4 linked regions of the Homo sapiens genome follow. The protein of the gene in region 2 interacts with the protein of the main gene of each other region in a pairwise test. Each region holds a gene or a part of one and is shown on either strand. Other genes may lie near its edges.

The links.
Region 1: the proteins of TRIM35 (region 2) and PDCD5 interact in binary tests that used the Homo sapiens proteins (3 or more experiments, as listed by UniProt).
Region 3: the proteins of TRIM35 (region 2) and SHC3 interact in binary tests that used the Homo sapiens proteins (3 or more experiments, as listed by UniProt).
Region 4: the proteins of TRIM35 (region 2) and COL8A1 interact in binary tests that used the Homo sapiens proteins (3 or more experiments, as listed by UniProt).

The regions. Positions count from the first base shown.
Region 1 is NC_000019.10:32,574,399-32,585,501, forward strand, and holds the start of PDCD5 (programmed cell death protein 5), read left to right. Parts: upstream 1-6,791; 5' UTR 6,792-6,863; coding exon 6,864-6,929; intron 6,930-7,796; coding exon 7,797-7,834; intron 7,835-10,551; coding exon 10,552-10,613; intron 10,614-11,103. UniProt on the Homo sapiens protein: May function in the process of apoptosis.
Region 2 is NC_000008.11:27,281,409-27,287,432, forward strand, and holds the end of TRIM35 (E3 ubiquitin-protein ligase TRIM35), read right to left. Parts: 3' UTR 3,478-6,024; downstream 1-3,477. UniProt on the Homo sapiens protein: E3 ubiquitin-protein ligase that participates in multiple biological processes including cell death, glucose metabolism, and in particular, the innate immune response.
Region 3 is NC_000009.12:89,003,280-89,008,964, forward strand, and holds the end of SHC3 (SHC-transforming protein 3), read right to left. Parts: 3' UTR 4,899-5,685; coding exon of another isoform or gene 4,239-4,898; 3' UTR 2,492-4,238; downstream 1-2,491. Other genes in the region: uncharacterized protein LOC124902206, read left to right, coding at 4,239-4,898. UniProt on the Homo sapiens protein: Signaling adapter that couples activated growth factor receptors to signaling pathway in neurons. Involved in the signal transduction pathways of neurotrophin-activated Trk receptors in cortical neurons.
Region 4 is NC_000003.12:99,793,484-99,800,744, reverse strand, and holds the end of COL8A1 (collagen alpha-1(VIII) chain precursor), read right to left. Parts: intron 6,516-7,261; coding exon 4,609-6,515; 3' UTR 1,528-4,608; downstream 1-1,527. UniProt on the Homo sapiens protein: Macromolecular component of the subendothelium. Major component of the Descemet's membrane (basement membrane) of corneal endothelial cells. Also a component of the endothelia of blood vessels.

The sequences.
Region 1 (11,103 bases), on a different chromosome or scaffold from region 2:
GCATGTCTGTCTCTGCATCCAAATTTTCCCAATTTCCCTCCCTCCCCTCATCCCCCACCTTTCTTTCTTTTTTTTTTTTTTTTTTTTGGTCTGAGACACAGTCTCACTCTGTTGCCCAGGCTAGAGTGCAGTGGCACAATCTTGGCTCACTGCAACCTCTGCCTCCTGAGTTCAAGTGAATCTCCTGCCTCAGTCTCCCGAGTAGTTGGGATTACAGGTGTGCGCCACTATGCCTGGCTAATTTTTGTATTTTTAGTAGAAACAGGGTTTCACCATGTTGGCCAGGCTGGTCTCGAACTCCTGACCTCAGGTGATCCGCCCTCCTTGGCCTCCCAAAGTGCTGCGATTACAGGCGTGAGCAACCGTGCTTGGACCAAATATCCCCTTTATATAAGGACACCAGTCATACTGGATTAGGGCTCACCCCCAATGACCTCATTCTAACTTGATTACTTTTGTAAAGACCCTATTTCCAAGGTCACATTCTAAGATACTGGGGGTAAGGACTTCAACGTGTCTTTTTGCAGGGACATAATTCCACTTATAACAGCAGGTTCACAGAGCTCAGCCTTTCAGCTGGCTTCTTACCAGTCAATAAACCCACCCATACACTTGGAGTTCCTAATCAAATCTTTCTTGCTTTCTCCTTAAAAATGAACAGGTTAGGCCGGGCGTGGAGGCTCACACCTGTAATCCCCAGGACTTTGGGAGGCCAAGACGGGTGGATCACCTGAGGCCAGGAGTTCAAGACCAGCCTGGCCAATCCAGTGAAGCCCATCTCTACTAAAGATACAAAAATTAGCCGACTGTGGTGGTGCCCACCTGTTGTCCCAGCTACTGGGGAGGCTGAGGCAGGAGAATCACTTGAACCGGGAAGGCAGAGGTTGCAGTGAGCCAAGATTGCACCACTGCACTCCAGCTTGGGCAACAGAGCGAGACTCCATTCCCCACCCCCCGCCCAAAAAAATGAACAGGCTAATCAAGGACCACCAACTATCTAATGACAGCCTATGGCATGTGGGAGAGACTATAATAACCATGTTTTCTTATTTTAAAATTTTAGATACAGGGGTCCACGTGCAGGTTTGTTACACAGGTGTATTGCATGATGCTGAGGTTTGGGCTTCTATTGATCCTGTTACCTATATAATGAACATAGTACCCAACAGAGAGTTCTTCAACTATTCCCCTCCTCCCTCCGTCTCACTGTCAGAGTCCGCAGTGTCTGTTGTTTCCATCTTTATGTCCACGTGCACCCGAGATTTAGCTCCCACTTATAAGTGAGAACATGCAATTTTTGGTTTTCTGTTCTGTGTTAATTTGCCTAGGATAAAGGCCTCCAGCTGCATCCATGTTGCTGCAAAGAACATAATTTCTTTCTTTTTTATGACTGCATAGTATTCCATGGTATCTATGCACCATGCATTTTCTAGTTTCTGTTTTTGATGCTCTGACATCTTGGGGCCTTGCTGACCCTGGAGGGATGGTCCCTCCCAGGGCTAGCCACATCCTAAAGATAGTAAGTGACTCTCCTGTGAGCACAGCTTTCAGATGCACACCAGCCAATCCAGAAGTCATTCCCCAACCACCTCCGTTTCAGGGCCCTCACAGGGCTGTTACACTCAGGGCAACTATTTCTCTGCCCTAGTCACCCCAGGGCCCAGTACCAGACTATTAGAAGCAGAGCCCACAAAAATTACTCAAACTAGCCAATCCTGAGCCTGCGTATCTGCCTCACCTGTTCCTTCTCACAGAACTCACAAAAAAGGCTCTCGTCCACTTTTACCCTCTTCCCTCTGCCTCGTGACTGCCCCTGGCCCCTGTGTGGTGTGCCCTGCCTCCTGTTTCTGGCGGTCTGTGAATCTAAGCTTTTTCCTTCATGACCGTCAATTCCGTGCCTGTATGTCTTCGCATATCTAATTTAAACAAATCCTGGGTACCCTTACAACAGAGGCCAAGAAAAATAATCAGGTATAAAAACAACCTGAAAAGAAAGAGGACTAACTCAGGAAATGAAAGAGGATGTTTAATTGGTTTCCAATTATTATTATAACAATATTTAAGAAGTTATTACACTCAAAAATCAAGAACAAGATAGTACGCAAACAGCATGATAATGCTGCATAAACAGAGTAAGGAGAATAAGTAAATAAATAAATTTTTAAACGGTGCAATAAGGGAACAAGAAAGTGTTCTTATAAAATAAAAATATAATGGCTTAAATAAATTCAAGAGAAAGGTCAGATGATAAAACAGAAGAAGCCTTCCATAAAGTAGGACAAAAAGACCGAGATGGAAGACATGAAAGAAAAGGGATATGAAAGATTTATCCAGGAGGCCCAGTTTACAGTTGTCCCAGATAGAGAAAGATAGAAATCAAAGAGGAAAAAAGTATCAAATGGACAACAAAACAAAATTGCCCAAAAGTTAAAGGTAGAAGTTTCCAGATCAAAAGAATCTACCAAGCAAACAGGACAAGGGCTTTTAAAAGGCCCAAACCTTTGCAAAATTTCAGAATCCTGGGAGGAAAAGGAAAGATTCTAAAACTTTTCTTTCTCTTCTTTTTCTTTCTCTTTCTTTCCTTCCCTCCTTCCTTCTTCCTTTCCCATTCCCCTTCCCCTTCCCCTTTTCTTCCCCTCCCTCCCTCTGTCTCTCTCTCTCTCTCTCACTCTCTCTCTCTCTCTCTCTCTCTTTCTCTCTTTCGGGGCTCACTCTCACCCAGGAAAATTCCTAGGCTCAAGCAATTCCCACCTCAGCTTCCCAAGTGGCTGGGACTACAGGTATGCACCACCATGCCCTAATTTTTAAGTTGTTGTAGAGAGAGGGTTCTCACTAGGCTCATCATGTTGCCCAGGCTGGTCTCTAACTCCCAGCCTCAAGCGATCCTCCCACCTCAGCCTCCCAAAGTCCTGGGATTACAGCTGTGAGTCATCACACTTGACCAAAAGCTTTCAGAAAGAGAAAAAAAAAAAACACCACTCACGAAGGAATAGGAATCAGATTTTTGTATCACGAACACCAAATGCTAGAAGACAGATGAGATGTACCTTTATACTCCAAAGGGAGTGGACACTAAACACAACTGGATCACGAACTGACAAGAAAACAAACAGTGGTGGTGAAGGTTATTTGAATAACTGGAGAGACAAATGTGGGCTACATCAAGTAGATGATACTATTTTATCTATATTAATGTATTGGGTACAATAATTATATTATATATGAGTATATCTTTGTTCTTAGGATATACACTTAGGAGTGAACTGACATATTTGAAACCTTCAAATGGTTCAAAAAAACTGTGTGTGTGTGTGTGCATATGCACACACGTATGTATGTGTGTGTAGACATATAAAGTCAATGTGGCAAACTTAATGATTAATGAATGTATGGGAAAGATATATACACGTTCTTTGTACTATTCCTCCAATTTTTATAGATTTGATGGTTTTCACAATGTAAAGTAAGGAATTTTACAAATTACTAATATATAACAAAGTTAGAAGGGTAAATTAAAAATAACATTTTGTATTATATTTTAATTTAAAGTAATTCTGAGGGGAAAATATTTTATCCAAAAGTCTATAACCAACCATGAATTAGTCAAGTGTTATGGTCAATTAAATATTTAGACATATGACAATATAGAAAATTTGTCTATCACAGACTTTTTAAAGACAATTACTTAAAAATGTGTTTCAACAAACTTAAGGGTTAAACCAAGAAAGAGCATAAGGAATCCAAGAAATAGAGGATGAAACTCAAGATGGCAAGGAAGGAAAATCTAGGATAAGAGGTATGCAACAGTCCCCACCATTCAGTGGGGAAAGGACAGTCTTTTCAACAAATGGTGCTGGGAAAACTGGATAGCCACATGCAAAAACATGAAGTGGGACCCTTACCTAATGCCATATTAACTCAAAATGGACCACAGACCTGAACATAATGAGCTAAAACTATAGAACTTCTAGAAGGAAACAGGAGAATAGCTTCATAACGTTAGATTTGGCAGTTATTTCTTGGGTATGACACCAAAAGCAAAGGCAACAAAAGAAAAAATAGGTAAGTTGGACTTTATGAAAATTAAAATATTTTGTGCATTGAAGGACACAATCAACAGAATGTAAATCCCATGGAATGGGAGAAAATAGTTGCAAATCATATACTTTGATAAGGGATTATCTAAAATATGTAAAGAACTACTACAACGCAACAACAAAAAAAGAAAAGCAAATTTTAAAATGGGCAAAGGGCTAGAAGAGACATTTTTCTTTTCTTTTCTTTTCTTTTCTTTTTTTTCTTGAGACAGAGTCTCGCTCTGTCACCAGGCTGGAGTCCAGTGGCGCGATCTTGGCTCACTGCAACTTCCGGCTCCCGGGTTCAAGTGATTCTCCTGCCTCAGCCTCCTGAGTAGCTGGGACTACAGGTGCGTGCCACCACGCCCAGCTAATTTTTGTATTTTTAGTAGAGACAGGGTTTCGCCATGTTGGCCAGGATAGTCTCAATCTCTTGACCTAGTGATCTGCCCTCCTCAGCCTCCCAAAGTGCTGGGATTACAGGAGTAAGCCATCGCACCTGGCCTAGAGTAGACATTTCTCTAAAGAAGATATACAAATGGCCAACAAGCACATGAAAAGATGCTCAACATCACTAATCGTTAGAGAAATGCATATCAAAACCACAACACCTCACCTCATACCCGTTAGGATGGTTACTATCAAAAACAATCAAAAAACAAACAAACAAAAAAACAGAACACAACAAATATTGGTGAGGAGACGGTGAAATTGGAACCTTCATTCACTGTTGGTTGGAATGTAAAATAGTGCAGTTGCTGTGGAAAATGGTATGGCCATTCCTCAACACAGAATTATCACATTATCCAACAATTTCTCTTCTGGGTATATATCCAAAAGTGAAAGCACAGACCTGAACAGATATTTCTACACCCATGTTCATAGCTGCATTATTAATAATAGCCAAAAGGTGGATGCAACCTAAGTGTCCATTGTCAGATGAATGGATAAACAAAATGTGCTAGGTATATCCATACAATGGAATATATTCAGTCTAAAGAGGGAAAGAAATTCTGCCACATGCTACAACATGAATGAACCTTTAAGACATATGCTAGGTGGAGTAAGCCAGTCACAAAAGGACAAATATTGTATGATTCCACATATACAAGATACCCAGAATAGGCAAATTCATAGAAACTAGAATGAGAATGGGTGGAGACTGATTATTATTCTCAGACCCCTCCCACCCCCACCCATTCCCATTAGAGGCCCCTCACACCAACCTAAATCTTTACTGGGTAGAGTTCCAGTTCAGGATGATAAAAAAAAAAAGTTGTAGAGATTGATGGTGGACAAGGTGGTTCATGCCTGTAATCCCAGCACTTTGGGAGACCAAGGCAGGTGGATCACTTTAGGTCAGAAGTTCGAGACCAGCTTGACCAACATGGTGAAACCCCATCTCTACTAAAAAATACAAAATTAGCCGGGCACAGTGGTGCACGCCTGTGGTCCCAGCTACTTGGGAGACTGATGCAGGAGAATCGCTTGAACCCGGGAGGTGGAGGTTGCAGTGAGCTGAGATTGAGTGACAACTGCACGATAATGCATTTCATACCACTGAAAAGTACACCTAAAAATGGTGAAAATGGTAAATTTTGTATTGTGTATATTTTGCCACAATTAAAACACACAGGCCAGGTGTGGTGGCTCATGCCTGTAATGTTAGCAGTTTGGGAGGCTGAGGCAAAAGGATTGCTTGAGCTCAGGAGATAGAGGCCAGCCTAGGCAACATAGCGAGACCCCATCTGTATTTTTTTAATGTAAAAAATAAAATAACACACACACAGACAAACAAACAGAATCTGTATGAGTCACACGTTTAGGTAGCTGAATATCCTCTCTGCCCCCAATTCCCCCAAGTCAAAGGCAGAAGGGATTTGTTCCACCAAAGAGTTTACACCAGCCACAGCTGCCCACTGCAGTATCCTCCCAGGAAAAGCCCTTTTGTGCGTGGAGGAGGCAGATGGCGAGGAGGCAGATGTGCACTTTTTTTTTTTTTTTTTTTTTTTTTAGAGACAGGGTCTGGCTGTGTCTCCCAGGCTGGAGTGCAGTGGCGAGATCAAGGCTCACTGCAGCCTCGAACTTCCGGGCTCCAGCGATCCTCCTGACACAGCCTCCTGAGTAGCTGGGACTACAGGTGCACATCACCGCGCCCAACTAGTTTTTTAAAATTTTAGTAGAGATAGGCTCTTGCCATATTGCCCAGGCTGGTCTCTAACTCCTGACCTCAAATGACCCTACCGCCTCCCGAAGCGTCGGGACCACAGGCGGCGAGCCACCGGCCGGCCTCTGTGTGCACCGAGGAGCCGGGCAGCCACCGCCACGATCCAGCTTTAGGACATTTCCATCACCCCACTCAGCCTTCCTGCGCCCCTGGTTCCTCATCTATAAATAGAGATAATATACGCCTAACCCTCTAGGTCACCAGCACATTGCACCCATAATTATTATACTTGTTGATGCCACACTTTCAGGTTTTAACCTTTCCAAAGCGCAGCCCCGCCCCAGCGCAGCCCAAGTCCCTGCACGCAGAGGCGCCGATCACGGGTGGGAGGTGGATCCCGGAGGCCCCGCCCCAGGCCCCGCCCCTCCGTGCGCCCAAGCTCGACCGCCTGAAATCGGGGAATCGGGCCTCTGCCGGCGCCCTGGCAGCGGCGCGGGGCGTGGCTCCGGGCTGGATTGGTGGCGCCTGGGCCCCGCGAGCGCCTGCGCAGTGGTCAAGGCCGCGCTCGCGCCGAGGGGCTGCGAGAGTGACCGCGGCTGCTCCAGCGCTGACGCCGAGCCATGGCGGACGAGGAGCTTGAGGCGCTGAGGAGACAGAGGCTGGCCGAGCTGCAGGCCAAACACGGGGTGAGCGCATCAGCCCCCGCCAGGCTTGGCCCTCGCGGGGCGCCGCCCTCGCCCGGAGTGTAGGGCGCGCCTCCGGGGCGGAGGCTCTGGGCGCCTCCCCGGGGCCCCGGTCCCCTGCGCTGCCCTGGCGGCCTCGTGGCCGGCTCAGAGGTGGCCTCGTCGCTTTCCTCGTCGCGAGGGGCCCAGGAGGCTGGCGGCGGGGGCCGCCACGTGCGGGACCTGCCCTGGCGTTGGGGTGTGGGGTCCCCTAGCCTGGAGCGGGCTCGTCCTGGCGGGCCTGGATCCAAGCACAATCTCAGCTTTTGGAGCCAGCAGCCGGACCGAATTCAGTTTTTCCGGAGTTCAGTTGTTATGACCCAAGTTTAGCCGACAGGTATTGAGGGTCCGCTGTGTTCCCGGTGCTGAGAGCGCGGCAGGGTCGGAGGAACGCTTGCCCCGCCGGGATGACAGGGAGGGGCCGCCTGGGAAGCTTGGATGGATCACACGCCCGGAGAGGCGTTTCTGATAAGGGACCGGGACCTTAGGGACGGAGGGCGCAGTCTTTGAGTTATCGTTGTCCCTAATACCGAGGCCCGTTTTATTTTCCAGAAATTATTCCTACATGTGAAACACGGTTTCGTAATACAGGGATTCCCCTCCCCAGGGTGCTCTGTATTCCAAAGCCTTCTGAGGTTGTGGTTTTAGACGTTCATCAAAACGTTGTAAGTGGGAACTAGTTCATTGATTTCTGTGAGGCCCAGTTTCTTATTTGGGGAGTTGTTTCTACCACCGCAAGAGACTGTTATGTATAGGAAACAACAGAACCGTTCCTTTTTCCCGCCGCCTCCCGTGAAATTTCTCTATTAAATTTAAGTTTTTTTTTTCCAGGATCCTGGTGATGCGGCCCAACAGGAAGCAAAGCACAGGTATGGGCTGGAAACGTGAACTTTTTGAAGGGTGGTTTCACCAAATGGATTTCTTTTGCTGTAGTTATTTTAAGCAGGTGTGTGACTCAGATTTTTTTGTTTTGCTGGAATGGTGATTTGGCCAAAATCATCCGCAGGGTATCTTCATTATTGTTAAATAAACACGTGTGCAGCTCCACATCAGACCTTGTATTGCAATTACTGGTTGATGTTTCTCTGCTACAATGTGAGTACCTTAAAAATGAGCCTGATAATAGGCAGCTGTGGCAGTTTCCTCGGCTGTGGGGGTGACGTGAGTCCGGTGCCTCACTTAGTAAGTGCTCAATAAGTGTTAACTGGTAAGCTATTCTGATTGTTTTATCCCAACACAGCGCACAGCACCTGAGACAGATGCAGGTAATTGATTCGGTGGCAGGTTTATTGAATGAGTATGTGATTACCCTATCATGCTATCATTTTTTAAAAATTGTGGTTAAATAAAATTTCACCATCACAACCATTTTTAAGTGTGCTCTTCAGTAGTGTTCACACTCTAGAATGTTTTCATCTTGCAAGACTGAAACCTTTAGCTACTGGACAATTCTCTATTTCCCCTTCCTCACCTTCTTACTCCTCCTCTCCAGCAAATATTTATAGAGCACCTGCTCTGGGTCAGGCACTGTGCTGGGTCTACAGAAATAGGAAGGGAGGGTTCGGGAGAAGACAGACGGTGAGAAGTATCTGGAGTAGTGATAGGAAGTAAAACGACGCAAATTTCATTGATTTCTGCCGTGTACATCTTTTCATTGTCACATATCTGAAATCAGGATGCCTTTTAAAACAGATTGCTCTTGCCCCAGATTCTTCCAGAGGGGATTTACTTTTGACTCTGCTATCACTTGAGTACATTTCTGAGACCATTGAAAGTTAAATTCTCTGCTTGAGGTTTTCCCCTGCCTCCTGCCTAGTAGTGTGAATTCAGACAGCAACCCTGTAAGACTGAACTTTTTTCTTCTTTACGTCAGGGCCAGGTGCATGCAAGCTTTTGTACTGCCCCTTACTGCATGGCATATTTATTTATTCTTTACTTTGTACTGAGAATGTTGCTCTTTGATACCCCAGTGGTGGGATCAGAACTCACTGCAGCCTCAAACTCCTGCTGGGCTCAAGTGATCCTCCCACCTCAGCCTCCTGAGGAGCTGAGATGACAGGCGTGCACCACCATGCCTGGCTAATTTTTTTAAACTTTTTTTTTTTTTAATAGCCTCGCTATATCACCCAGGCTGGTCTCAAACTCCTGGCTTCAAGTGATCCTCCCACCTTGGCCTCCCGAGAAACCCCAGTTTTGAATGGAGATCTCTATTAGACCTCTCATTTTAGGGTTTTTCATTTTTAGAGATACGTAAAACTATGGTGTATCTTAGAATTGATGGCATCTTAGGGTTCTGTGATATAATAGTTTGTGGCAGGCCAGGTGTGGTGACTGAAGCCTGTAGACCCAGCTACTCAGGAGGCCGAGGGGGAAGAATCACTTGAGCACAGGAGCTTGAGCTGATCATAGCTGCAGTGAGCTGTGATTGCACCACTGTACTCCAGCATGAACAGCAGAGTGAGACCCCATCTTTTTTTATTGTTGTTGAGATGAAGTCTCACTCCATCACCCAGGCTGGAGTGCAGTGGCACAATCTTGGCTCACCGTAACCTCTGCCTCTGAGCTTCAAGCGATTCTCCTGCCTCTGCCTCCCAAGTAGCTGGGATTACAGGCACCCGCCACCATGCCCGGCTAATTTTTGTATTTTTAGTAGAGATGGGGTTTCACCATGTTGGCCAGGCTGGTCTCAAACTCCTGACCTCAAGTGATCCACCCACCTCAGCCTCCCAAAGTGCTGAGATTACAGGCATGAGCCACCATGCCTGGCCTAGACCCCATCTCTTAAAGTTTGTGGCAGGGCTGCAGTACTCAAACCATAAAGAAGTGGCCTATGGAAATGAGCTTTAAGCCACATTCCATGAACCGAAGGGCCTCTGAGCTGGGAGTGGATAGTGGGCACAGCCAGCCCCAGCTCTCCCTCTCAGTTGAGCCAAAGCATCTGTGCTCATTTGTTTTTAGATTTCTTAAAGGATTTCATTTGAAAGAAAAAAGAAACAAGTCCATGAGACCACTGTCCTGTGAACGTGAACTACTTTCTATTTGGGTAGGTAGGAAGAAGTGAGGATAGTTGCAAAGTTATAATTTCATTCCCCTTCCCCACCCAGAAAAATAGAACTGAGAGTCTTAAAACATGGAATCTGGCTGTAGCTTGGCCACAGTTACCTATGTCTCTTTAGCATAGCCTCCTGGATCTCAGCTTTATCTCTAAGAAAATGATATAGATTAGTCACATGGTCCTTCTAATTGCCTGAAATCCCACTATAAATTTCTAGCACCTGTCACGCAATAGGTACTTAAGAAATGTTGGTGATGGTGTTTGAACTGAGGCTCCACTCTGATGAAACTGTAAAGCTCACCTTCCAGCCTGGTAGGTTGTCACCTGTGTAATATAAAGCTGGTTCTTTGAGGGCAAAAGGGGATTCTACTTGAATGTAGCTGCAGCCTTATGTACAGCAACTACCATAATGCAGTTTGTATACCGCAGGCCCCATGTGGAGACACATACTGGATGGGTTCTTTCTCGTATGTTACATGGGAATGCCGACAGCTGTGTTTTAATTGTGTTTGACCTATGTTTTCGTTGTAGGGAAGCAGAAATGAGAAACAGTATCTTAGCCCAAGTTCTGGATCAGTCGGCCCGGGCCAGGTGTAAGCATCTTTGATTTCATTTCCATAAAGTTAGCTTGAGTTAGTTGAATGGGGTGATTAGATACCATTATTGCTATCACTAGATGAAATATTTGCTTAGGCTGAAAACACTTGAGATGTGTAAGAAGTGTGAAGTTTATAAACCTAGAGAACTGTACTTTAATCCCTAGTAAAAGTACCAGGTCACTTCTCTTACCAAGATGTTCTCCAGGTGTGTATTAGGTAAGATTTATAGGAAACAACTCATAGGGCCAATCACAAAATGTTGCTGGTAGTTGACATTTTGTGTCAACTGGTGATGGGGACTGGGGATGGGGGACTTAGGGGCTTTTTATATGTATTGTCAGTTTTAGTGTATGTTCAGAGTTGTTCATCATAAAAACCAAAACCTGTAGAAAGAAAAAATGAGACAGTCAGAATGAACTGGTATTTTCTGTATTTTAACTGGAAGCCCAGTTTGAGTGTAGAAAAGGCGGCCACAGGTGGATCA
Region 2 (6,024 bases):
CCAGAATAACCTGTCTTATGCCTAAAACATTATGACTCATTAGTCTTTTTTTTTTTTTTTTTGCTAGAGTCAAAACGTGAGACAAAAGTTTCTGCTCCCAATCCCAAGTTCTGGAATATTGGCCGGCAGCAGCACCCTGAGTCAGCAATCCCTACTGTGCACAAGACATAGGCTTTTGCTAGTGACATAAATTATGAATCACAGGATGCTAGAATTGGAATGACCTGGAAAACACATGCAAATGCCCAAGTTTCCCTGTTTACAGAAAAATACTTCAATGGCTATATCCTGCAGCTATTTAATTAGCAGAGCCAGGGTAAGACAACAGTAAACTCTCAACTGTGCCAGATCCTCTTCTAAGTGTTTCACACATTTGCTCATTTAACCTCATATCCACCCTGTGAGGTAGGAACTCTTACTATCTTCATTTTCCTCACGATGAAACTAAGGCACAGAGAGGTTAAGTAACTCCCCCAAGGTCAGACAGTGGTTCAGTCAGGGTTTAGGTCCAGGTTGTCCAATCTGGTATCCCAGCCTCTTAACCACTAGAAACCTTTGTAAGGGTTCTAATGAATTGAGATTTTAAAAATGCACATTGAGGCCGGGCACAGTGGCTCATGCCTGTAATCCCAGCACTTTGGGAAGCCAAGGCAGGCGGATCACCTGAGGTCAGGGATTTGAGATCAGCCTGGCGAAACCCCATCTCTACTAAAAATACAAAAAGTAGCCAAGTGTGGTGGCACATGCATCCCAGCTACTCAGGAGGCTGAGACAGGAGAATTGCTCGAACCTGGGAGGCGGGGGTTGCAGTGAGCTGAGATCACACCATTGCACTTCAGCCTGGGCGACATGTATATTGAGGTCTCAGCTTTAAGGTTTCTGCTTGGCTTTTTCTCTTTGTTTTAAAACCTTAAGGTGAAATATTTAAACACGAACAAAAAGTAAAATCTATCCACTGAATGGACTGAATGAAAACATCGTACAAACCTCCCCCTTGAGAGAAAAGGATTTTAGTAACATCTTTGGGGTTTTTGCCTCTTGGTTGGGTTGCTTAGGGATGAGAGCTAGAGTTGTCTGCTCTAAATTATAATGTATTGGGGTGAACAGAATATACCCATCAACAGGATATGTGCTATGCATAAAATATCTCTGGGAAGTTTGAAAAAAACTAGTAATATATATTGCCTACCAGGGGGGTTGCTGAGTGTTTGGGCAGAAAAAGGAGACAGACTGTTCTAGTACATTTTGTACCTTTGGAATTCACAGCCATGTAAACAGATTATCTAATCAAACAACACAAATTAAAGACAGGCTCCTGCTTGTCTTGTTGTGAGTACGCTGCATGCCTGTACTTACTGCTTTGAATCCTATTTTTTTGGTTCTTACAACATAACCATTTTCTCATGCTACTGAAAGTTTTTCATGAACATGAGTTTTATGCAAACGTTCTTGTTAAAAATCTGAAGAAATCGGAAGACTCCCAAAACAGGTAACTTCTATTTCTCAATCTCTCACTTTTCTTTGGGATTTGTCATTATTGGGAATCACAATTTATATATTCAGAATCTCCCATTTCTGAAGAATTCACCAATGTGTATTAATCCTATCCTAGGTTTAGAACACAATACTTGGCATTTTTACCGTCATTTTCCTCATCGAATCCCCACAAGTGCCTGAGGTAGATATTGTCATCTTCGTTCTGTGTAAGGGAGCAGAGGGTCAGAAGATTCAGGCAGCCCAGAAATCACAGGGCTTGCATCTGGATCCAGAATCTGGACTGTGGGCTTCATGCCACTTTCTCCTTACCAAAATGCCACCAGTTGGTCTGTGGCACTTTCAAAGGCAGCTTTCCTGCCCCACAGTGCACGTCTCTAACCATACATGCACTCAACAATCATTTATTTATTTTTTTATTATGATTTTTTATTGAGACGGAGTTTCACTCTTGTTGCCCAGGTTGGAGTGCAATGGCACAATCTTGGCTCACCGCAACCTCCACCTCCTGGGTTCAAGTGATTCTCCTTCCTCAGCCTCCCAAGTAGCTGGGATTACAGGCATGCGCCACCACGCATGGCTAACTTTGTATTTAGTAGAGACGGAGTTTCACCATGTTGGTCAGGCTGGCCTCAAACTCCCAACCTCAGGTGATCCACCCACCTCGGCCTCCCAAAGTGCTGGGATTACAGGCGTGAGCCACCGCACCCGGCCTCAACAATCATTTATTATGGTCCAGCAACATCCACAGATTTGGGGCCTGAAAGAGGAAGATGACATGCTTCCTGCACTCCCAGGTCTGCAAGCAGAAAAGACAGCGAGGTGCTCTTCCACAAAACAGGCGGCATGCAGTGGCAGCCCAGGGAGCCCCGGGCAGGTCTGGGAAGGCACCTCCGAGCTGACAAGGGGGACTGAGCGACAATAAAGGGAGGGCGACAGGCGCTGCAGGCAGGAGGAACAATGGGACCCTGCACCCAGGAAGGCTGGGCAGGGTCTTTGTAAACAGTGGTGACCGTGGTTGCAGGAGTCAGCCGGGGAGGGGTCTCGAATGTCACTCTGGAGGTGGGAAAACTCCCGCCACTGCCCCATCACTCACCACAAGGGTCACGAAAGACTTCCACTATTGTGATATTGAGCAATCAAATACTGTTGAGAGAAATTTCATCCCCCACAAGCAAGAGGAAGCAAAAAAGGAAATGGCCCCTGTGCACCTAATTCTGACCAACTGATACCTGGTGGCTGACGTGGACATGACTGGGAGCCTGGAGGTTACTGAGGCTCTCGTGTGCTCTGAGACTCCAGTTTCTGAGGTGCTCACACTGCTCAGACATTCAGGAGGTGGGGAGGGGCCCCACTTCTACAGATGAGAAAATAAGATCAGGCAGGCAGTGTGTGCCCCAGGAGATATCACGTAAGCGGCAGAGCCAATATGATCAGGAGAGCCAGAGCAACCAAGGTCAGGACATTCCAGTGACAACGGGCCCCTGGTGAGGGCAGGTGGCCTATTTCAAGGGTAAACAGGAGCCTGGTCCGGCTGGAGCCATGTGTGACGGGACTGAGAAGACTCCGGGTATAAAGGCAGAGTGCAGTGACAATGTGCCCTGAGAGCTGCCCTGGAGAAATGCACTGCAGCGGGTTGGAAATGGGGTCTCTCCAGGTGATGGGAACATGAACGATGGTGCATGTGGAATGGATGCAAAAGTGGGAGAAACTGGAGAACGGGGGCCTTCCCAGAGAGCTGCTGCTTTGAGCCTGGACACAGTAATGAGAAGGAGAGTGACGGGGTGAGTGGAAGGCAAGGGCAGGAGAGGGGCTTCAGGGAAGAATTAATGAACTCGTGGACTAGCGCTTCCTGCCAACAGAATAACTGCCCCATCCCTGAGCCAAAACCCCGAACTTACATGGACCTAAGGGCAGTATCAAAAGTGAGATTTCTAGGATACATGTACAACAAAAGAAAAAATAAATAAAAATTGGACATCATCAAAATTAAAAGCTTTAGTATTTCAAAGGACATCATCAAGGAAATGAAACAGCTCACGGAGAAAAATTTTATAATCATATACCAGTTAAAGGGACTTGTGCCAGGCTATAAAAGGACTCTTACAACTCAATAATAAAAAGACAAATAACCCAATTAAAAAATGAGCAAGTGATCTAAAGATAGCTGTCCTAAGAAGATATGCAAATGGCCAATAAGCTCATGAAAAGATGCTCAATATCATTCGCCATCAGGGAAATGCAAACCAAAATCACAATGAGATGCCACATTACCCCTACTAGGATGGCTAAGTTAAAAGATAGATAATAAAAAGCACTGAGGGATGTGGAGTCATCAGAACCCTCATGCCCTGTTGATGGGATATAAAATTGTGTCACCACATTGGAAAACAGTTTGGGAGTCCCTCAAGGGTTAAATAGAGTTTCATATGATCCAGCAAATCTGCTCCCAGGCATATACCAAAGAGAAATGAAAACATATGTCCACACAAAAACTCATACACAAAAGTTCCTAGCAGCATTATGTATAATAGTCAAGAAGTAGAAACGATCCAAATGTCCACCAATCGATGCATGATAAATAAAATGTAGTACTACCATTCCATACAATGGAATATTACCCGATGAAAAAATAAAGTTGAACACATGCTACAACATGGATGAACTTTGCTTATAAGAACATTGAAAAGAAAATGCCAAAAGAAAAATGAGTTTTAGCTCAAATTTTTTTTTAAGAGGCCTAGCCTGCTCAAGTTATCCTGTTAAAAAAAAAAAAAAAAAAAAAACTCTTCCCATATCTAAGGTGAAAATAAAAAACATTTTTAAAAGTTTAATATAAAGAATGAAATAATTTCAGGTCAAGTTTATTATACAGAAATTATATTAATGGGTGGGATAAATACTTTACAGGAGAGGGTCACACTCTCAGACACTTTGGCTCCCAAAGGGCTTGGAGCTTTTGTGAGGCTGAGCATCTTCCAACCAGGTGCATGCACTGGTTTGCCAACATCCTCACCACGCCCAATCCAGCCCCTTCACACACTGACATCGCCTACCTGGGCCCTCCTTGTGGCCTTAAGTTTTATCTAACCAGTGTACACAACATATTTATAACCAATTAATACGTGTGAGTCATGATTTGTTTAAAATGTCAGCTTTTGTGAACTGAAGGGGATGGGCAGAAGGCAGGATGCTGTCCTTGGTCAGGAATGTGACCCAGATTTTAACACTGCTCCTAGGAAAAAAAAATATTTCCTTTTATGATGCCACTTCCTGGGACATGATGAGCTGAAGATTAAAAACTCTTCAGAGATGTGCGAGAAAAAACAAGCCCAGGGAAAAGTCTGCAGGCATGGTGGAGGAAGAAATTAGGGATGAAATCGCAAGTGGCAGAGCAAGCATGACCAGGCTGAAGTCAGCAGAGACAAGAGGGCAGCGAGGCCCAGCCTCCTCTTCCCTCTCCCACAGCGTTTAGGGCCACGTCCATGGCGCCACCCCTCTCCTTTCTTCCCAACTGAAAAGGGTGCCCTCTTTCCTTCTTTTCTGCAGACGCTGATGAGAATTAACCAGAGGAACTTCCTCCACAGCAACTATAACAGGACATCCTCATCCAGTCCTCCTATCTCATTTCCTGGTGGGGAAACAGGCCTGGCAAGGAAATAGGCCGAAATCACGATTTAAAAAATGTTGTGTTTAAGTACTCTGGAACCCTGTGTTCAGAGGAAATCGTGCAAGAATAGATCAATCAGAGCTGATCTGATGGAGACGGAGGATCCAGCCACACAGAGGCCCTGCATTAACTGTATTTCCTGTACTCTTGATGCTCTGGTATCTGGGGCCTCGCTGACCTGGACAGACTGATCCTCCCAGGCTAGCCAATCCCCCAATCCCTAGAGATGGCAAGCATCTGGCTGAAAGCATGCCTTTCCTATGGAAACCAACTAATCCGGAGCGATGGCGCCAGCTGCCTCCTTCACATGGCTCTCCCAGGGCTGTCACACCCCAGGCCAACATTCACCTGTCCTGACTATCCCGGGGCCAGGTATCAGACAAAAAGGGCAGCCCCTATCCTGAGAGCCACTGAAATTACTCAAGCCAGCTACCCTTAAACCTGTCTCCCCTGCTTACTCTGCCTTGCCCATTTCCTCCTGAGGAAACCAGAGGAAGTCTCTTGCCCACACGTTCCCCTCCCTCCTTCCGCCTTCTGACCCACCGTGGGGCTTTCCTATGTGGCCCCTCCTCTCAGAACCGTAAGTAACAAACTCTCCTTTCCATGGCAGTCCCCTCCTCATCCAATGGCTTTACCACACCTCGATGAGATGGTTTACAACAGGCCCATTCTAGAAGTAAACATTATTCCCAGAAATCCTGGAATAGGGATTCAGAAAATTCACATTGTGGAGGTGCCACGACTCGGGAGAGCCTGGCCAGCGAGGTGCCACCCGAATAGCTCCTGACCATGGGCACAGAAGGGACCAAACATGGAGAGAGGCACAGCCTGGAGTCATGGAAAAGGACCAGGCAGGACAG
Region 3 (5,685 bases), on a different chromosome or scaffold from region 2:
GACAGCACTTTGATTCTATGTTGAGTTTGTTTCTATATTAGAAAAGCAGCAAGTCAGTAATCCCCCGTGGCATCACAGCTAAGTAGCTGTGGCCACCGGCAGTTTCACAGCATCCTGAAAGCTGGCACTGATCGTGACTATCAGTGAAAGAAGTTTAATTTTCAGGTTAGAAAATGTGATCTGGCAGTTTATGCATTCTTCAGAGTAATGTAATAATACCTATGTGATGCTGTAATTTTACTTTTCAACATAAGTTGAACCCGTAGCAGTCTGTTTACCTTGTAAAGGGATTACTTAGAAGACATTTTTGTACATGCTCTTCCCCAAGGATTGTACGTATTATACAAATAGATGGAAAGAAAAGTGAACACGTTTGTAGAACTTTCATAAGCACACAGTTGCTGTGTTGAGTTCTCTTTAAAAACAAGGACAAAACCAACCAGCGTTCAAAGGAACCTCCCATCAGAGTCCCCTAAAGTATTTTAGGTTCAGTGAGCATTTGCCTGAATAAAACCTAAAAGAGTAGTCTTAACACATTACTAACTTTTTCTAAGAGAAATTGATTCCTGTTTTGTCATCTGATGCAATTTGCTCTTATAAAGAGACATTTTCATAGGTTCAGAGTAACTCACCTCCATGGGCTGACCAAAGGCTTTTCTAATTTTTGTTACTGATGAGATGAAACCTATTTGTAAGGAGATCTTCCCCAGGAGCATTTCTGTTGCCTTCTTGACATCAATGAAAAGTAGCATATTCTCTTATGAAATAGCATGAGAAAACACAGGGCATTTCTAGGACAGTAAAACGTTAAAGTACTGGATTAAGAAAACAACAACAGGCTGGGCGCAGTGGCTCACACCTGTAATCCCAGCACTTTGGGAGGCTGAGGCGGGTGGATCACCTGAGGTCAGGAGTTTGTGACCAGCCTGGCCAACATAGTGAAATCCTGTTTCTACTAAAAATACAAAAATTAGCTGGATGCGATAGCACGTGCCTGTAGTCCCAGCTACTCGGGAGGCTGAGGCTGGAGAGTTGCTCAAACCCGGGAGGCGGAGATTGCAGTGAGCCAAGATCGCACCGCTGCACTCCAGCCTGGGTGACAGAGCGACCCTCTGTCTCAAAAAATAATAATAATAATAAATAAAACAACAACAAAATGCATCAGAGAGCCAAAACATTCAGTATTGCATTTTCACATAGGTGATGAAATGACTTTGGAACTTTATCTGTGTTATAGTTATGAGTTGCTTTGGGAGACTTGGAGCTCTCTGTAGCTATTGTTCATAACACTTTGCTCCATAACCCTGATGTCCGCAGTATCTAAGTATCTCAGCCTTCATCCATTAACTCTACTAGGGAGCCCACAGCCACCATTTCCACTAGGAGGTATCAATATTTGTGGTATGACATAAGGCTCCCTTGAAATAACAAGACTTTTGAGCAATCTGAATTAAAAATACATCAAAAAAGTAATAGCGCTCATTTGCTAAATGCAAAAAATAATCACCTTTGATACCAATGTGCACCAATATGCCTAACTAGCTAGCCAGCTGGAGATAATTTACCAGGGAATGTTTCAAAGCCCTAACCTTGAAGTTTGGAAACAGGTGGTCTTCTATGCTGCAGAGAAACTATGCATTAGGTCTCTTTTCAATTAGAAACCTTTACTATTTCCAATGTATGTTTGTTAAAAATAATAATAATAAAACCAAAAGCCTTTGTGGAAACCCACTCTTCGTAGTCCATGTGATGGGATTGTTTTATCGTTTTCACCGGGTGCCCTCCCCACTGCAGGGGTGCGCACTGTTGTTGCAGGCTTGCTACCCACCTGTGTTTCTTAGCATTTCAGGAATTAAACCACATTCAGAACCCCAAATAACCTTTCCCCTTTCTTCTTACCCACTATCATAGGTGGTATTTTAATGAAGCGTCTGTGCCTTGGGTGCTATTTACACCAATTTTGGTAGGTCATACTATTTTGAGAATGGTCTTTTGATAGGGAGAAATTTCTAAGACCCATGGTAATAAAAGTGCAGCTCAAAGACATGGGACCTCTTGTCCTGCCCCATTTGCTGTTGTTTATGCAGCAGGAGAGAATAGGTCAGAACCAACCTTTGCACACTAGCTTTCTCCCACACAAACGGTCCATTTTAGCCTCTCTGTCCCACTTGCTATGTAAAGAGGAGGCCAGTGCTCGGCATAACTGTTCTGGTAGCGATGCTTGTTACAACTCATGATGAAATGTCCCAACGCAAGTGAGGACGCAGCTGCCCGCCCCAGAGCTAGAAGGTAAGGTGAGTTCTCTAGGAGTACATCTGCCCGGATGCATTTTCATTCCGCAGCCTTGATGAATGGGACGAGGCTTTGTTGTGACTGTTTTTTAAGCAGTCCCCCAGGGAATCACTGAAAATACCTACTTCTTAGAGAAAAGTTTCAAGCTCCCCTCCTCTCTTTTGTGAGGCAATACAAAATCCATCATCCAAATGAAAGATACTTTTCACAACAGCCTTTATTGCCTGCAGACTTACATGTATAGTCCTTTAAACAATTAACTGTTTAGAAAATGGTTGTTTCTCTCAACCCTTGAGCCAGTTATTCCACGCTGGTAAGACCCTTTCACAGAAATGTAACAAGGTGCATTTTATAGAAAACATCTAATTAAATCACCAGTTTCATGCTTTTAAGTTGTATCTACAAGTGCAAAACTGCAACACCCAAATGTTTTTAGTATCTAAGTCAGATATCCAAAAGTTAGCTCCATAATCAGAAATGCGCACACCACTGTTCTGATAATAAAGGCACATTTTCCAATAACCAATTATAACAAGAAGTGCAGCATTACCTAAATTGGGTGTGTCATCTTCCCCTCCTGGGTCACAGGATGACACCTGGGGATGCGATGCCGTGCCTGCACTTGGCGATCCCAGGAGCACAGAAATGCACCAGACAGATCATGAAGGGCTAATGCTTGGAAACCACACCATTTCCTGACAGAGTGAAGGAATCCCTGTGGATTTATCAAAAGGGAGGAGGGAATTTAAGCTAATTCTCTTCACCTGCTGTATTCTCAAATCTCCAAAACACCAGATAACTTAGGTTTTTTCATTTGTCATAGAACAAAGATTAGAGAACTTGAAATTCGTTTTGCATTTCCACTCCTCAGGGATGTCAAAAAAGCCAGTTCTGTTCCAGCACAAAGTAGAAAGTGGTGAATTGGCAATACGCCAAGACATAGACTGTTACAGTAATTCTTTTTGTTTCACAAAAGTTAATGGAAACAAAACAACTTTCAGATAATATTCATTTGTCAGTATGTATAATTTGCCATCCAAATGCTTTTTAAAAAGTTATTATCTTATTATTACACATTAAATTTACATGGAGTTGTCTCCTAATCCTGGGATTTTAACACCAAATGTTTAATTCTGAATACAAAGAAACATTCACATACTTAATTTTACAATATTCTGGAACAAGTTATATTCAAAAGTCAAATGAACAGAGAACATTCCACTTGCAACCAACACATAGCTGTTAACAAAATTAACCCCATTAATATTTAAAGACGGATTTATCCATTAATGCCTGTTTTAATTGTCACTTGATTTTGATGGTTAGAAACTTTGGTTATGGTAAAAATGATCACATGAGTGGGAATTCATTACCTCAAAGCTCAGGACCACAGCTCCCCATGTGCATGTTTTTCTGTCTGCAGTATTTCAAGGTGAGACAACAAAATAGACACCTAAAATTGTATGAGATTTTATTCCTGGTGCTTTTTCAGCGAGAACCATTTTTCCAGACCTAGGGAAGGAGCCTGTGTGTTTTTGGCCTGAAGGATTCATCAATTCAGAGCATCTGTGACAGCCAGGAGGAGGAAAGAAGGGAGGCTGGGATCACCTCCCGCCCCTTCTAGCATCTCTACTGAGAGTGACAACTCCAGGCTGTCCACCCCCATCCTGAGCCTTCCACACTCTTCTCCGTGCCACTAACACTCAGTATCTGACGCCTGCAGTGCGAAGCCTCCAGAGTCCCCAGACTGACCTGGGCACTCCACCCTTGCTGGTTCTACTTTACTTGGACACACGGGTACCTTAAGGCTTGTCACACTCCAACACCTTTGTGTGTGTGTGTCTTTATTTCTTTCTAGGTTATAAACTCAGGCAGAGGCCTCATACATTCACTTCTCTATCCCACCATCCCAGTACAGGGCCAGCCACATATTAACTAATGCACAAATGAGGCCAAGAAACTGGCTAGAAATCCCAAGAAACTGTGCCAAGTATATGCAGCTGCACCTGGGAATACACGAAAGCATGACATCACGAGCACAGCCTCCTCCACCACACCTTCCCTTTCTCCTCCTTCCCTGCTGGCCTCAGACAGCTATGCATGGCTGCATGAAGGAAGATCTAAATCTGGACTTGTTTTATCCTCCCCTTCCCTTCTTCTCACCTTTATTCTGCCTCCACCTTCTTCTTTCTTTGTCTTCCCCCACTGGCTTCTCTGTCATTTCCCACAGTGGGTTCCCCCAATCCCTGTGGTCCTCATGTCCTGTTCTTGTTCTCTTTGTGCTGGATCTCACATCCTACAGCATCCAGGACCATCCTCCATGGCTGATGCCACAGCCTGCCAATTCCCAAATTCTTCACGTTTGTTTGACTTCCTACTTAGCTGTAAAACCAAAGCCCAGGGAGGAGTCCCAAGGTGCACAACACAGAGCCAATCTGCGTGTGTACAGAGATGCAGATCCGTTTTTAATCAATGTAAGTATATGCGTATATGTATATACATATGCAATTCACATTCACAAGTCCTGGTATAAAGTTGCAATTTTTCTGGCTGCTATAAAATGTGCCAGTTTTAAAACTGTGCATTTGTTGCTTGCAAACTTATAAATATGTATAAACCCCATTATAAATAAATTATGGCTGGCAGATGGCATTTAAGCTGCCAGCAATGGTTGCATGGAGTTATAAATGCTTATTAATTCTCCACTTTTAAATTCACAGCACGGACCCTGGGATCTGTGACATGAAGTGGTGTGAAAGCATAATTATAAATTAGAGGGGGGAAAGCCATCAATAAGAGACAGGTAAGGGCTGGAAACTCTCACTAGTGAGTGGTTCTCAAAGTCAAGACTTCAGAGCAGCTGCACCAGCATCACCTCGAGATTTTTTGAAATGCAAATTCCCGGGCCCCACTCCAGACCTAGGGAGTCAGGAACTTGGCGGGGCCAGGGGGGTGGAAGGGCCTGCAATCTTTGTCTGAACCAGCTCACAGGGTGGTTCTGATGCCTGCCTTCCACTCGAAGTCTGCTTGTCACGAACGCCTGTCTCAGCTCAGGGACATCCCCGGCTTAGGAAGTATGCTCAGGTGTGTGCAGGGCCAGTCAGAAATTGTTTCCAGAAACAGCCTTTCATAAGTGATAGACTTGGTGAATAAATACCCCAGCTGTCTCCCCGCCTTGCTGGGTGAACTCTGGGGTGTCAGCTCTGTCTCTCGGGGTTCCCCGGTGGGATTCAGCTCCAGTTGTGCACATGACGGTAACTTACTTGATAATGCACGCCTTCCCCGTCAGCTTCCTTCTCTCCCTACTTCCGGGATCTTCACTCAAATAAACTACATAACCTCAAGTCCTCTCTCAGGGTCTCCTTCTGGAGGAACCCCAACTAAGAGGAAGTA
Region 4 (7,261 bases), on a different chromosome or scaffold from region 2:
CGCCAGGCTGGAGTGCAGTGGATCCATCTTGGCTCACTGCAACCTCTGCCTCCTGGGTTCAAGCGATTCTCCTGCCTCAGCCTCCTGAGTAACTGGGACTACAGGTGCGCACCACCACACCCAGCTAATTTTTGTATTTTTAGTAGAGATGGGGTTGGGGTTTCACCAGGTTGGCCAGGATGGTCTCGATCTCTTGACCTCGTGATCTGCCCACCTCAGCCTCCCAAAGTGCTGGGATTATAGGTGTGAGCCACCACGCCTGGCCCAGAAGATAATTTTTTAAGGAGAAGAGATGTTTTCTCTCCTTTTGTATGCCTCACATTGCTTAGTAGTATCAGGCACCAAGTAGGGGCTACCTTATTTGTGTTCTGTTTTAATATAAAGGGGTACTATACACCCATTGTAAGATGTATTTTGATTTCCTTTATTTAGTAACAGTAATGATAGATTTGCCCTGCTCTTCAGAATTCCAAATTCTAACCATTTATTCTTCCTTGCCTCCATTTCCTCTATCTGTTCTTCCATTCACTTTTGTGACAACACTCTATGCCTGTAAGATGACTGTGAGGGAAGTGTATTTGGCTGTGAAATAAAACCAAACCAACTGGGCTGTATGGGAATGGAAGTTGTAGTCTTGCGTTTCCAGCCTGATGGTTTAAACAAGTAAGTTAACCAGCCATAGACTGGTGGTACATCTTGCTTATTGAATGATTTGAATAATCCCTTTATAATATTTTAGACATGGTAAGTTATGATCATTCTGGGATTGGTAAGTCATCACAAAATAATTCTTTCTTCTCAGGGTCTTACTAAGACCCTCAGGCTCTTCAAACGGGTCTGCTTCTTCCCTTTACCTCCACTCACCACTATCTCCCCTCAAAATATTTGGCTTTTTTGTGGCAGAGTGAAATAGAATGGAGTATTTGAAGATTGGTCTCTTGTGGGAAAAGAGAAGTCCGTGGCCATTTTTTCTTTTTTGATGGAAGTGGAAGATGCAGCAGCTAATTATTCCCTAATATTGATTCTCTCTTCTCCCATACTACTAGAACCCCTGATTTTTAGCTGGGCATATGGTTACATAGACTATTCAATTTCCCACACTTCCTTACAGCTTCTTGTGGTCACGTGACTAAATTTGGAGCCACGGGATGTGGGAGACAGTGATCCAAGCAGCTGCTAGGTTGAGTCCTTTAAGACAAAAAGCATGTCCTGTCCTTCCTGCTTTGTTCATCCTCCCCGGGGATAGAATGTGACTGATGGTTAGTATCCTGGACCATGGAGATGAGGGCAACACCCTTGATGTAGAAGAGCAATAAGATGGAAGGAGCCTGGGGCTGTGATTGGAATTACCATGTGAGTCCTAGACTGCTTATCCTAGGAGCTCTTAAGTCAAAGAGGAATAAATTGTTCTGTATAAGCTATGCTTATTTTAGGTCTCTATTTCAGCAGCTAATTCATGAGAGTACGAATTTAAAAATACTTGTGAGGTTCAGTGTCAACTGAATGATACGAACAAGATGAGAAACATACTTTTAAAGATATTTAATGATGTTTTTCAAATCAGTACAAAAATTTAAATACAAAAATGATTTGCTATTGACAAGTCTCAAATCTGTCATGGGAACTCAAACAAGTTACCAGTCTGTTCACCGTTCATTGTATTCTATAAAATATTTGATAACAGTCACCCACTACAGACATTCTTTTCCCCTGTGGGATGTCATACTGCATTAAAACTCTGTATTTACATAACAATAATATGAGTTTGGTCCATTTCACATGGAAGAATTCTGGTTAATTTTGAACTAAATAGGGATTATAGCACAATCCCTAGACTTTAGAACACGTGGTTGTTTCATCTGCTTTTACACTAATATGTTAACATGTTGTGCAGCACTCAAAAGGGAAATACAGGCACATAGATAATTATTTAAAACTCTTTTTTAAATTAAATGGAGTATCATTTAGGTCTGAGATTAGCACCATTGTAGAATGCACAGTATTTGGCATAGATGTTGCTCCTCTTCTATCTAAAAGTTAGAAACCTATGTCTGATAATACACATACACACACATGCGCACGCATACACACACGTGCGCTCACGCGCACACACACACACACACACATATATATATATATATAGGCAATTGAGTGACAACCAATAAATAAGTTGGAAGATATTTTGAAAAGTGAAATTTGGTTTTAACTAAAAAGATAATTTCTCTCTTTCTTGGTGGGAATTAAAAGCCCATACATGTACAGATAAATACAATTTTACAAATCACCTGATCTGACTTGCTTTTAAACCATTTCAATGTGGCTGTTTAGCAGAAGGAGCCCAATGGATCCATGCTGCCCACCATAGTCATCAGCCCAAAACCAGTATCCTCAAGAACAACCCAAAGTATATTTGGCCACATAGATGCTGTCTGCTTTGAAAACAAAGGTTGTGGAGGACATCTTTTTGTTGGGAAAAGATTGTTGTATAATTAGTAGTGACAAGAACCCCTGTGGTAATGGACTAATTTCTCTTCTTAAAAATTGAGAAGAAATGGTGCTTGTATACTATATAGGGAAATGAGATATTGGCCAAGAGAAGAATTTTTGTGATGGTAATAATGATTCAGATTTGACAAAGACACATTTCCATGTGTTTTCATACCGTATTTATTTGTGTATTTTTCCATCTATATCTATCCCCTTAACTCATGGTTTTATTTTTGACAAAAATATACAAGATTCCACCACCATAACCCCACATTATTGCTCCAAGTGATAGAGTCAGCAGCAGGCTAATAGCAGGCTCGAAATGGGTCTTTGGTGTTTGGAGACCAGATTAGAATGCCCAAAGCAGTTAGTATGTGCCCAAGCAAAAACCTGGAAAAATATTTATTTCTGCTTTTCAGACTTGTATTGGCCTTTGATTTGTGCCGAGTACAGGATGACATTAAAAACACAGGCTCTTGTTGCCCTTTGACATTCTACATAGCCCTTCCACAGTCCGCTTCTAAGGAAACAGTTCTTTTCCTATACTTTTACTACCTACACCCAGAAGCAGCACATCTGTTTTTAAATTCGAAATTTCAGAATTATTTTTTCAAATATTAATTTTTCTATGTAATTCTGAAACTCCCCCCTCACCAATTATGGCTTGGATTTTGAAAGCTGACTTTGGCCGGGCACGGTGGCTCATGCCTGTAATCCCAGCACTTTGGAAGGCTGAGGCAGGTGCATCACTTGAGGCCAGGAGTTTGAGACCAGCCTGGCCAACATGGCGAAAACCCATCTTTACTAAATATACAAAAATTAGCCAGGCATGGTGGCGCAAGACAGTAGTCCCAGTACTCGGGAGGCTGAGACAGGACAATTGCTTGAACCTAGGAGGTAGAGGTTGCAGTAAGCCAAGATCGTGCTACTGCACTCCAGCCTGGGTGACAGAGTAAGACTCCATCTCAAAAAAAAAAGAAAAAAATTGACTTTGGAACCTCAGATTACATATCAGTTTGCATACATGCTAAACAGAGAAATGTCCTCAAAATTCAGTTACTAAAAATTACTGATATCTCCATGATTAGAACCACACTGTGGTTGTGTGTGTAGTCAAAGGAGGAGAATTTTTAATGCTATATAAGCATAACTGATAACTGCTATTACAAATAAATATTCCACAAATTTGGAAAGTTATTAGAGGAAGAATTTTTTTTCCTTGTAATTTCCAGGTGTTTATATTAGTTGGGCCATAGTGAAAATTACATGGAGGAAAGAAAATAGGAAAATAAGTCACAGAAAAAGAAAATCAAAACAAATAGAAACTCTGGGGAACAAGTGAGTTAATTACTGCTCATGTCTCCCATCCGGTTCTCTAGCTCCTTGAGGGTTACTGTCTAATGCTCCACAAAAGTGCCTTACCCAGTGCTTGGTACAGAGAAGGCACTGAATAAATTCACAAAGGCCGATTGGTTCACCCATTCTTTTAGAGACAACAGACACGCAATTCTGACGAGGACTCCTGTTACTAAAAGACACAGCCTCTGATACAAGAGAGATATCCCTTTGACTAAAGCATTACCAGGGTCCCCAGGGCCCCCTCCCACTGGGGCGGTAACACTACGGGTCTCCCCACCATATATTCCATGTCAAAGTATCTACACAAATACAGAGGAAATTAAGCAAGTAAATACGGTATGTAATTGTTATCATTTGTATTTCTTTAAGGCATATTTATAAATATTTTAAAGTAAACAATATGAGTGAGTGCCTTTCATTAGCTATGATCTTTCATACTGATATATTTTGACTGATCTGAATAAGCAGGTTACTGTGGAAGCATATAACATAAAACAGCTAATATGATTCCAGTGGGTACAACCAAGTGTCAGTACTTGATACATAACTCTATCCCATCATTCGCAATTACAGGCTGCTGTGTGGAGTATTAAACATGCATCTTAGTTTTTATTTGTACACAATGGTCCAAATTTTCACTTACATATAACTTTCCAACTGTGTAAGTGTTTTGAAGCAATTATGTTTTTCATTTGGATTTTTTGGTGTGTCATTTTCTTCTATAAAATCTCTTTCTTTTCTTTGTTTTTTGTTTTTTTGTTTTTACATGGGATACAATAAATATCCTGAAAAGGAGGAGTGGACATACTGCCCGGCATACAGTCCTGCAGCCTGTTCTGAGGGCATCTGGAGGAACACCCGGTCTCCGGGCCTGAGCAGCAGCACTGCACTCCCAGATGCCTGGTCCAGGAAGCCCTTTTTGTACTCGTCGTACGTGTACATCACGGGCTCGTTGTTCTTGAATAGAGCAACCCACACGTTGCCCCCCTTGCAGTGAACGTGGTATGCAAAGTAGTAGACACCAGGGACCTCACAGGTGAAGATGCCTGTCTGCGGGTTGTAGTTCTGTCTGCCGTTATACAGCAGTTTGTTAAACTTCACTGGGGCCCCCACCGGTGGGAAAGGTGCGGTTAGCTCGGCGGTAAATGCAGGCATCTCATAGGCTGGCCCTCCATTCTTGCCTTTCTTAGCCCCGTAGGCATGGGGGGGTTTCACGCCATCAATTCCCAGCCCCATATCTGGCAGATACTCTCCCTGGGGTGGTGGTGTAGGGGGCATCACAGCTGGGGGTCCTGGAGGTCCTGGAGGGCCTGGGGGTCCTGGAAGGCCAGGCTGGCCTTGAGGACCAAGGGCACCAGGCTTCCCTGGGGGGCCATGAAGTCCTGCCACTCCGGGTTTCCCTATACCAGGGAACCCAGGGGGCCCTGGGAGGCCCGGCTCCCCTTTGGGGCCTGGAATCCCAGGTGGTCCAATGGGGCCACTAGGGCCCCCAATCCCTGGGATACCTGGGGGGCCCTGTAAACCCTGATCCCCTGGGATTCCTGGCTCTCCCTTAGGTCCGAGAAGCCCTGGAACACCAGGGAGTCCTGGTACACCTTTTTGCCCAGCTTCCCCCTTGGGCCCTATGGGACCTGGCAAACCCCTCATGCCAGGAGGCCCTACTTCACCAAGGAAACCTGGCTTTCCTGGGAAGCCTTGAAGCCCTGGCTCACCCTTGGGACCTGGTGGCCCCTGTGGCCCTACAATCCCACCTTCTCCTTTGGGTCCAGGAAAACCAATAGCACCTGGAGGGCCCATAGGACCTGGGATTCCAGGCAGGCCTGGCTCTCCTGGAGGACCCCCTATTCCTGGGGCACCTATTGGTCCTTTCTCCCCTCTTGGTCCAAGAGCCCCAGGAACACCTCCCATGCCCCGGTCACCTTTGGGTCCTGGGAAGCCTGGTTTCCCAATCCCTGGAAGGCCTGGGGGTCCTGGTAGCCCTGGCAGTCCTTGCTCCCCTTTGCCACCTGGAAATCCTGGCTGGCCTGGGATCCCATCCTGGCCTGGCTTTCCAATTCCGGGTATCCCAGGAGGTCCTTGAACCCCCGGTACCCCAATAGGGCCTTGTGGCCCAGGTTCTCCTGGAGCCCCTGGCTTTCCCAGGGGGCCCTGGGGCCCAGGGAAGCCTGTCACTCCTGGTTTGCCCACTCCTGGCAGTCCAACAGGGCCGGGAGGGCCGTGCATCCCTGGAGGCCCCTTTACACCTGGCGCACCTGGCATCCCGAAGCCCTTGTCTCCTTTAGGACCCCGAAGGCCTTGAGGTCCTGGTAGTCCTTTGGGTCCTCGATCACCCTTTGGTCCTGGTTGCCCTGGTAACCCTGGCCCACCTGGCTTCCCAATGCCAGGAAGTCCATGAGGCCCTGGAGGTCCTTGTGGTCCTGGGATCCCCATAGGCCCAATTTCCCCTTTCTGTCCAATTTCTCCTTTTGCCCCAGGCATGCCCATGGCTCCTGGCTTCCCTGGCATTCCAGGCATACCTGGCTTTCCAACTCCTGGATATCCCTGTGGCCCTGGTTTTCCTTTAATTCCAGGTATCCCATGACCTGGCAAACCAGGGGGCCCAGGTGGTCCTCTTGGGCCAGGCTCTCCACGGGGACCTTGTTCCCCTCGTAAACTGGCTAATGGTATTTCTACTGGGAAGAGAAGAGAGAGAAGGGGTATGGGGGGAGAGAGAGAGATTGATTAGTAGATTGTCTCTCACATCAATGAAGTACTGACAACCATTATTTAGTTCTGACACATTTGCCTAATACTTATCAAGAGAAAAGACTAGGAATAATATGCTCATCTTCTAGACCTTAAAAATCAGGCCTGGCATGGTGGCTCGTGCCTGTAATCCTACAACTTTGGGAGGCCCAGGCAGATGCATCACCTGAAGTCAGGAGTTCGAGACCAGCTTGGCCAACACAGTGAAACCGCGTCTCTACTAAAAATACAAAAATTAGCCGGGTGTGGTGGCACATGCCTGTAGTCCCAGCTACTTGGGAGGCTGAGGCAGGAGAATCACTTGAACCCAGGAGGCAGAGGTTGCAGTGAGCTGAGATCACACCACTGCACTCCAGCCTGGGTGAAAGAGCGAAACTCCATCTCCAAAAGGAAAAAAATAAATAAATAAGAAAGAAAAATCAAGCTGACAATTTTTTTTTATGTATTTGAGGTATTTTTTTGATAACTGATATGTGAAGCTGCTTGTATCAACATTGGTTAAGTAAAGAAGCTAAAAAGTAATGAAGAAGAAACATTTTTCCAAGTATAAAACTTGGAGATATTATGGTGTGTTTATTATAGTGAATTTGGAAGATTCAAAGATGTATAAAGAAAAATCAAATTTGCCTATAAGCCCACTACTCAGAGATAACCACTTAACATGTATATA